Regions from separate parts of the Homo sapiens genome. Here region 1 is reported to be linked to region 2. Evidence: microRNA targets listed by miRTarBase, many of them from high-throughput screens and not tested one by one. Region 2 holds a microRNA gene; the other region holds the end of a gene's coding sequence.
Evidence for each region. The annotated mature microRNA hsa-miR-208a-5p reads GAGCUUUUGGCCCGGGUUAUAC and lies in region 2 at 2,036-2,057, opposite strand. An mRNA with a match to its seed (bases 2 to 7 or 8) in the 3' UTR can be bound and repressed. Matches are read on the target gene's strand: a 7mer-m8 pairs with bases 2 to 8, a 7mer-A1 pairs with bases 2 to 7 and ends in A, and an 8mer does both.

Region 1 (4,375 bases), not on the chromosome of region 2:
TAGAAAGCGGCCTGCTTACTGCTGCTTAGCTGCTTCCCGAAGAGGGAACAGACTGCTCGCTGGTGTTTAGGTCTCCATGCCCGGCCCAGCTCTCTCCTCCTCTGCCCACCCAACAACCTCTGTGGCCCGGATGGATGTTATCAGGAAGGAGGGTGTCCAGAGCGGGGAATTGTGTTATAGGGAAGGTGGAGCATTTGAGAGAAGGGGCATCCGAGGCCACCAGACTCGGAGGTAAGCTTGCCATGGATTCACATGGGGGCCAGTCGGGCAGCCCCATCCATCAGCTGTCCATCAGCTCATAGCTGTGTCTCCGCCACAGGTTCCCATTAAGGATGTCGAGGCGGGGAATGGTGAGGAAGAGTCGGGCATGGGTGCTGGAGAAGAAGGAGCGGCACAGGCGCCAGGGCAGGTGAGTGCCAGCCTGGGAGCTGGCAGGGTGGGTGGGGGGTGGATGACTATTGCCATGAAGAGCTTCCCTTTATTTGAAGGGTCCAGGGCTGCTTTGATCTTTTTTTTCTGAGACTGTCCTATTCCTTTTCTGCACAGGGAAGTCAGACCTGACACCCAGTACACCGGCCGCAAGCGCAAGCCCCGCTTCTAAGTCACCACGCGGTTCTGGAAAGGCACTTGCCTCTGCACTTTTCTATATTGTTCAGCTGACAAAGTAGTATTTTAGAAAAGTTCTAAAGTTATAAAAATGTTTTCTGCAGTAAAAAAAAAGTTCTCTGGGCCGGGCGTGGTGGCTCACACCTGTAATCCCAGCACCTTGGGAGGCTGAGGTGGGAGGATCATTTGAGGCCAGGAGTTTGAGACCTGCCTGGGCAACATAATGAAACTTCCTTTCCAGGGAGGAAAAAAAAAAAAAAAAAAAGCTCTGAGAGCATCTTATTTTGTTTAAAGGCAAGAAATAAAATTTCCTTTTGTGGAGCTCTGGCATCTCCCAGCTCTGTGATTCTCACCAAACTCCAGTTCCTCCTGGTGGGCTACTGCTCGACTCCCCAGGCAGGAATCAGATTTAAAACACTTAGATGAAAGCATTCTTTCCATTTGCAAGGAACACAGAGTCCTTTAATTTAGGGCTTATATATAACTGTATCATAATCACACCAAGCAAAGTTGGGAAGAGGGCCCACATGAAATGTGTTCGTGGTGCCTGCTGGCCAGTCCGTTTTCCCTTCCTGTGAAGGCCTTGCCAGTCCAGCGGCCCCAGCTTGAACTGTGGCACTGAGCTGCACGGTCAGCTGCCTACCAGCCCAGTGCTTGGATGTCTTGGGCTGATCTCTTGTCCCGTCACTAGTGGTTGGAAAGGGAAGGTCCTGCTCTGGGGTAGTGTGGGACTGTCCAGCTGGCTGTGATAGGAGAGGAGGTGTAATGGTTGCTTGAGCCTTTTGGTCCATGTGGGAAGAGGGGCAAGATCCTGGGCATTGCAGTACAGAGCTGGATTAGGTGTTCAGCAGCTTAAGACATTAGGGAATGGGTGCCGGGGCCCGAGGGGCTGGGTGTCTGGGAGTGGGGTGAGGCTTGGGGCCTGAGGATCTAAGCCCTGCAGTGGGGTTTCCTGCAGGTGTCAGATTCCAGGCCTTGAGAGTGGCCTCTGGGCCTGTTCTCAGGGAATAAGGCCTGGATGTTTTCCACTGCACGGCCAGAGACAGGTCTGAGGAAGTTGAAGGCCCAGGGTGGGGTTGAGGCTGAGTTGGGATCCTCGCCTCTGAGCCCTTCCTCTTAGTGCCACATTCATTCATCCTCAGGTTCTAAGACTGTGACACTGCAGATGGCAAGAAGTCTAGAGCAGCCAGGCCAGGCACAACCTGTGGTCCCAGCTCTGTGGGAGGCTGAGGTGGGAGGCCAGCTTGGGCAATAGTGAGAACCCTCCTAAGGTTTTCCCCCAGGAGACCTGGGGAAGAAATCTACAACAGAGGCCTGGTACAGATACAAATGTTTATTCTACATAAAAATTTCACAAAATGGGCAGCTGGTTGTACCAAGACCTTTGGTGAAGGGGTTGGGGGGAATCGCTGTTCAAGAAGGCAACACGGACAGTGGTCACAGTCACTGGGCAGGAGTAAAGCCGAGGGAGGGTGGGGCACACGGACACGGCCCCATCCCCTGCTGCATGCACTCGCATGCATCTCCCTGCCTGTCCACAAGGGAGAGGGTCCTGGGGCGGGGGCACATTTCCCATGAGAAGCCCCAAGGTGGTGAGGAGGAGGAGGTAGCCCTCCCCGGCTGGCTGCCGAATACTGCATCTGGGACACGTGACACCCACGTGGCACATCGATGGGAGGATGGCAAGGGCAGGATGAGACTGCAGGCCTGAAATGACATCTGACTTCCCAGAGCGCAAGACAACAGGAGCCACCATCCCAAACATGCAACGCTGGCTTGAGGGACTGACTGCAGCCTGCTTTGCCTCCCTAGCTGCTGGGGTGGCTGGAAATAGGGCACCAGCCAGCCCCTTCCAGAGGGACACCTGGGGTCAGACCTAGCCCAAGGGGTTGCTCCTGGGGCCGGAGGAATGTGGGAAGGGAAGCTGAGGCCCAGGACCCGATGGACTTTGCCCCTAGGCAGGGGAGGGAGCCTGGAGCCATGGCAGCCTGAGCCTCCCTGGCAGTGATCAGCGACTGAGACTCAGAGCTGGGCTGTCCCTCAGGGCCACCTCTCCCCTAACCTGAAAAGCAGCACCATGTGGCCAGCTGGTCCCCACCCCTCAGGGCTCTGCTTGTGGGGACAGCTGGAGAGGACAGGGCAGGTCAGCTGGAGGCGAGGTTAGGGTCCCCAGGGAAGAGCAGAACCTGGGCCCACCGAGTTACTGAAGGCAAGGAAGGGTGGCCTGTGTCACCCTGGCGGCCCTGCCTGGGTCTGCTCCTCGCTGTGCACACTGCATCACGCCCCGCTGGCTGCCTCCCTCTGCCTCTTCCCGTACAGACGCACACTCACAGAGATCATGCACACGACACGGGGCGGGGACGGAGGGCCCATGGCAGAGAAGGGAGCATGGGGGCCGGGAGGGAGGGTGCTCTGAGCCAGAGGCGGGGGTTGGGAGGGCAGCCCAGCCAGGTGGCAGCAGCCAGGGCCTCCTTGGAGTGGCCCACCTGGAGTGGAGTGGCAGTTTGGGTGGCTTCTAGGCGAAGATGCCCCCAACAGTGGAGGCGATGACGATGCCCAGGATCACACAGCAGATGATGATCATGATTTTCTTCTGCATGGGAAGCGGGCAGGAGAGGCCTCAGACAGTGTTGGCGGCAGGTGGGGTGGGACTATGGCAAAGGCTGAGGACTGGACAGTCGGGGGGGATCCAAGCAGGGGAAGGTGACGGCCTGGGAGGGGGCTGTCATGGGGAGCTCCTGAGAGAAGGGAGAGAGGTGGGATGGGGAGGGATGTGGGATGGTTGGGGGTCCCTAATGGGTGCTGGGGCATGGCCTTGGGCAGGGCTGGGCTACTGACCCGGCGCGCCTTGCTCTGGTACTTGACGGCCTTCTTGGTGTCAGACACGGCCCTCTCCACATAGTCTACCGCGTGTTCCACATTGTACTCGATCCTGTCAATCATCTCTCCCTGCGGGGCCGGGGGCACCCGAGCTCCAGAGGGCCCCCTCCTCAGGGTTGGGTTGGGGCTCGGGGCAGGACTTCAGGAAAGCACCCTGAGGCTAGAGACAAAAAGGGGGCGTGAGGAGGTTAGGGTACAGCTTCTCACCTGGGCCAGGTACCCTGGGTGGGGTGTAGAGGGCCAGGCAGGCTCCCCAAGGCAGCTCCCACATTTCCCCGCAGAGCAGCAATCCTGGGGGTGGAGCTGGCCATGCAGTCTCAGCTGAGGGTTGGGGACCATGCAGAGAACACTGTCAGAGATGTGGCAGTGCCAGGCAGAGGAAGGTGGGAGCAGGAGTGGGTATGCTGGAGTCTGGTCCTGCCCTGGCCATAGCTCCTGAGGTGGCCACAGGTGAGCCTGCCCACACCCCCATCCTCAGGCATGACAGCTCCATCCAGCTCTGTCTGCTGTCTGGGGTCTTCAGTCTTTAAGAACTTGAAGTCAGGTTCGAGACCATCCTGGCCAACATGGTGAAACCCCATCTCTACTAAAAATACAAAAATTAGCTGGGCGTGGTGGCGAGCACCTGTAGTCTCAGCTACTCAGGAGGCTGAGGCAGGAGAACTGGTTGAACCTGGGAGGCAGAGGTTGCAGTGAACTGAAATCCTGCCACTGCACTCCAGCCTGATGACAGAGTGAGACTCCGTCTCAAAAAAAGAAAAAGAAAAAAAAAAAAATAGAACCCCCTGCCCAGCCCACAGCCCTTTTGAGCCCTGTGATCTGGTCCCATGCTGCCCCCAGAGGCCAATCTGACCATGACACTGCCCCACAAGACTCCTAGGGCGTGTCT
Region 2 (4,375 bases):
CCTCCTCGTGCTCCAGGGAGGCCTGGGAAGGGGTGGGGCGAGGGCGGGCAGACAGGGCACAGGGCAGGGTTGAGAGGGAGGATGAGAAGATACACGGTGTCAGCCAGGACTATCGCCCAGAGAAGAAGAGCTGAGAAGAGATGGGGAGGTGGGATCTGCACCCCATGCCCACCACGGTGCTATTGGGGAGAAAGTGCTGGACTCTCTGGGCTTCCCCTGTCAAGAAAAGGGTTTGGACCTCACAATTGCCAGACCCTCCAGCACTAACACTGCATAAATTCCTGACCTGTCTAAAGTATTATAGAAAATGGAGGAATTTTTATAACCACAAATACAAAATTTTATCTTGTTTTCCAGGTCCCTCACCCTTTCCTGAGAAAAGTTAGAAGCCCAGAAAACTCAGGGCTATTCCCAGGTGCTTAGAAATGAAGAGTAACAATAGCTAATATATATTAAGTGCTTAAATGTGTTACCTCATTTAATCTTTATAATAATCATGTGTAAAATCATATGAGGTATGTACAGTTAATTCCATTTTACAGATGAGAAAACTGAGGCAGAGAGAGATTAAAGATTTTGCCCAACGCTGCAGTGAAAGTCCTCAAGCTGTGTTCCAACTCAGGCCTGTTTGACTCTGGAACCCCACACTCCTACCCACTGTCTAAGTGGTTATTATTATGGCCAGATTCCAACTTTTAAAACCTGGTGGGAAACAAAACCTTTGGCCTCTAATCAGACTGACATTTTCCTTTGTGCAGACCTTGGCTTTGGAGGCAGTCATGGGTAGTGAATAGTGGGTAGATAATGTTGAACAAAGAATATGGAATGAATAGATTTTGTCCTGGGGTCAGGGTCACCCCCAGGTGAGGGAGAAGTGGGAGACAGCGGCAGAACAGGGATGGGGTGCAGGGAGTTCTCGGCCCTCACCTCTGCCTCCTCCAGGGCTGACTGCAGCTCCAGCTTCTCCACCTCCAGCTGTTTGCGGACCTTCTCCAGCTCATGCACATTCTTTCCTCCTTCTCCTAGCTGCTCAGTAAGGTCCGAGATTTCCTCTGGGGACCAGAGGGCCAGAAAGCTCAAAGCCTATGTTCCCCCTGCCCCTGCATGGCCCTCCCTCCCACCAACTCATCTCTGGCCTCTTGGACCCCCAGCACACCCTGAAGGTTCTTGTTCTCCCGCTTGAAGGTCTCTAGGTGCTCCAGGGACTCCTCGTAGGCGTTCTTGAGCTTGAAGAGCTCTGTGCTGAGGGAGCGAGCCTCCTTCTGTGAGGACTCCAGCTCAGACTGCGACTCCTCATACTTCTGCTTCCACTCGGCCAGGATCTGCCCGGGGACAAGGCTCACTCTTCAGCCCCCCAGCCTTAGCTCCCCAGCCCTCCTGCTTCCCAGTGCCCCAGCCCCCAGCCTCAGCCGCATGTCCAAGATCTGTCCCTGGTCCCGAGCCTGGGCTTAGCCCTCCTCCTCCACCTCCAAGGAGGTTGCCTTTGGCCTCTCACTGAACCCCTCATGCCCCCTTGCCCTGCATGCTGGCTGCGGCCCCCGCCCATGGTCCACCTTGTCAAAGTTTCTCTGCTTCTTGTCCAGGGCTGCAGCAGCAGCATTGGAGCGCTCTACGTCCACCATCAAGTCCTCTATCTCATTCTGTAGCCGGTGCTTGGTCTTCTCCAGTGAGGAGCACTTGGCATTAACAGCCTCCACGGCCTCCTCGGCATCCTGCAGCCGCTGGGCCAGCTTCTTTCTGCCCAGGTGAGGGTGGAGGGTGTGTGTGTGACTCTACTGGGCAACACTGGAGCCTTGGGTGGACCTCCTTCCACCCCCTCCCTATATCTCCTTGAGACACCGTAAGTCCAGCCTAGCAGGAGCTGAGCCTGCTCATGCCTGGAACAGAGTCCGCCAGCACGGGCTGCCCAGGCGTCCTCCCTACCTGCAGTGGCATCTGGGTGTCAGTGCCCCCTGCCCTCACCCCCCACACAGGCTGATCGACGGTAGCTCCTCTGACCAACAAGCTTTTTGCTCGTCTTATACGTGAGCATCAGGTATAACCCGGGCCAAAAGCTCGCCCGTCACAGGAAGTGGGTCAGGGCCAGCCAGAGTTCACAGAGCAAAGAGTTCAGGCTTTCTTCCAAGCACTTCTGTTGCCCTCCGAGTTCCTCCTGTCTCTTCCACTTCCGTCTCATGACCACTTTGCCTGTCCCCACCCCAGGTCCTCTCGCCCCTTCCTCTCTGAGAGTCAGGTTAAGGGGGTATCTGGAGCTCACTTGGCCTCTTCGAGCTCCTCAGTCCGCTGAATGGCGTCCGTCTCATACTTGGTCCTCCACTGGGCCACCTCCGAGTTGGCCTTGGACAGGACGCGCTGCAGCTCGGCCTTGGCCTCTGTCTCCTCCTCGTACTGCTCCCGCAGCAGGTCGCAGTCATGCCGGGCCGACTGCAGTGCATGGGCCAGGGCGTTCTTCGCCTGGGGAGGGGGGGGGGCACCAGGAGGTGGGAGGGACTCCCTGTGCCCCATTCTCTAGATTCTCTTCTTATGTAGTACTTCAACCAAGCCCAGCCTTATTCACCATGTGGGCTGATGTGGCACCTCACTGTTTGAGGAGTTTCCCAGTCTGCTCACCCCATCCCCTTACGAATAAGAAAAGAGGCATTAAATGACGCTTAGCTGCAGGGCAGAACCTAGACTGGAGGGTCTTTCCCTTGCAGAGGACTCTTTCCAGCTCCAGGCTCCATTTCTGGCACTGAGATGAATTGCCCCAGGGCTGCCATCAAGCCTGCCCACCCTCCCCACTGGGCCTCACCTTGCCCTCCTCCTCCAGCTGCCTTTTGAGGTCCTCCATTTGCTGGGTATAAGAGAGCTTCCCCCGGGTCAGCTGCGAGATTAGCGCCTCCTTTTCCTCTAGCTGCCGGGCCAACTCTCCTGGAGGTGAAATGAGGGGCTTGTGGGCCATTTCACAAGTCATGTCCTGCCCTAGGCAGGGGGTTGGTTAGGGGCACCCACCATTCTCGGTCTGCAGCTTGGCTCGCTGGGTGGTGAAATCATTGAGGGAGCGTTGGGCCTCTTCTAGCTTCACGCGGTACTCATTGGCCTGGTCCTCCAGCGTCCGAGACACTTTCTCCAGGTTTGCCTTCAGGAAGCAAGACAGGAAGGGTGAGTGTGGGAGGGGCTGAGTCGACCAGAGGAAGGAAGAGAGGGTCAGAGATGGGGAATGCCAGAGGGCAGGAGGGGGACACAGAAGGTGTGGGAGGGCGCAGTCTGAAGAGAGACTTGAATTAAAGAAAGGAGGAACATGAAGAGATAGAGAGGGTGAGGAGAGCCAGAGAGGGGCAGGGGAGACAGGAAGAGAGACCAAAGGGTGATGAAGAGAATGAGAATGACAAGGGAGATGGCAGACAGAGAGAGAAGGCATGGGGGAGGCTCCGCTGTGCAGGGGAGAGGGCGAGGGGAGGCCGAGCAGAGCCTGCCTTGGCCTTGATGATCTGCTCCATGTTGGAGGTGACGTCATCCAGCTCCAGCTTGAACTCGCTCTTCTCCTTCTCCAGCTTCTGCTTCACCCGCTGCAGGTTGTCGATCTGCTCGCCCAGCTCGGCCACGCTGTCGGCGTGCTTCTTGCGCAGGGCCGCGGCAGTGGCCTCGTGCTGCAGCGTGGCCTCCTCCAGGTCCCGCCGCATCTTCTGGAACTCGGCCTCGCGCTTCTTGTTCATCTCGATCTGCACGGACGTGGCCCCGCCGGCCTCTTCCAGCCGCTCGCTGATCTCCTCCAGCTCCCGAGACAGGTCTGAGCGCAGCTTCTCCACCTTAGCCCTGGCGGTGCGCTCGGCCTCCAGCTCCTCCTCCAGCTCCTCGATGCGTGCCTGGGTCAGACACAAAGGGCTCAGACCCACCGCCTGGACCCCTCCACTGGAATCCCCCCGGCTCTGAAAAGCTACCAGGAACTTAGGTTCCTCTCAAGCAGTGGTTCTCAACTAGGGGCAATTTTGTGCCCCAGGGAACAGTTGGCAATGTCTGATTGTCATGTCTTGGTGGGGCTTGCTACTGGCATCTAGAGGGTAGGGGCCAGGGATGCTACTAAACATCCTATAATGCATAGGCCATCAATAGGAATTTGGCTGAAGCTCCCAAGGGCATCTCAGACCCAGTGTGAGCATCTGCAGCCCCAAATCCTGAGAACCTGTGGTTGAAGGGGGATCCTGGTATCCTGTGAGATCAAGAAGTTCAGAGTCCCCAGATTCACTAGGCTCTGTTGCGCTATTCATAAGACGGGAAAATGAGTGCTTGTATTTTACAAATATTTGTGACAACATGCCTCGAAACAATCAGATACCTTTGCAATTCTCCAAGTTAACCACAAAGTCCAATCAACCATATTCCTTGCTCTCCCAGG

Region 1: miRTarBase lists BUD23 as a target of hsa-miR-208a-5p. Seed matches in the 3' UTR shown: 7mer-m8 at 868-874.

What each region holds. Positions count from the first base shown.
Region 1 is chr7:73,697,286-73,701,660 of GRCh38, forward strand. It overlaps BUD23 (BUD23 rRNA methyltransferase and ribosome maturation factor), which reads left to right. Exons shown (of 12, transcript NM_017528.5): 11 at 320-409; 12 at 547-927. The coding sequence ends at 601. It overlaps STX1A (syntaxin 1A), which reads right to left. Exons shown (of 10, transcript NM_004603.4): 9 at 3,445-3,555; 10 at 1,925-3,199. The coding sequence ends at 3,122. Among named protein-coding and RNA genes, the nearest start is that of MIR4284, 12 kb to the right of the region's middle. RefSeq lists an enhancer at 2,090-2,591.
Region 2 is chr14:23,386,602-23,390,976 of GRCh38, forward strand. It overlaps MIR208A (microRNA 208a), which reads right to left and starts at 2,065; the gene lies at 1,995-2,065. MYH6 (myosin heavy chain 6) reads right to left here. Exons shown (of 39, transcript NM_002471.4): 26 at 3,456-3,845; 27 at 2,992-3,118; 28 at 2,792-2,910; 29 at 2,258-2,454; 30 at 1,554-1,737; 31 at 1,157-1,322; 32 at 928-1,052; 33 at 1-22. RefSeq lists enhancers at 1-293, 2,343-2,946, 2,947-3,550.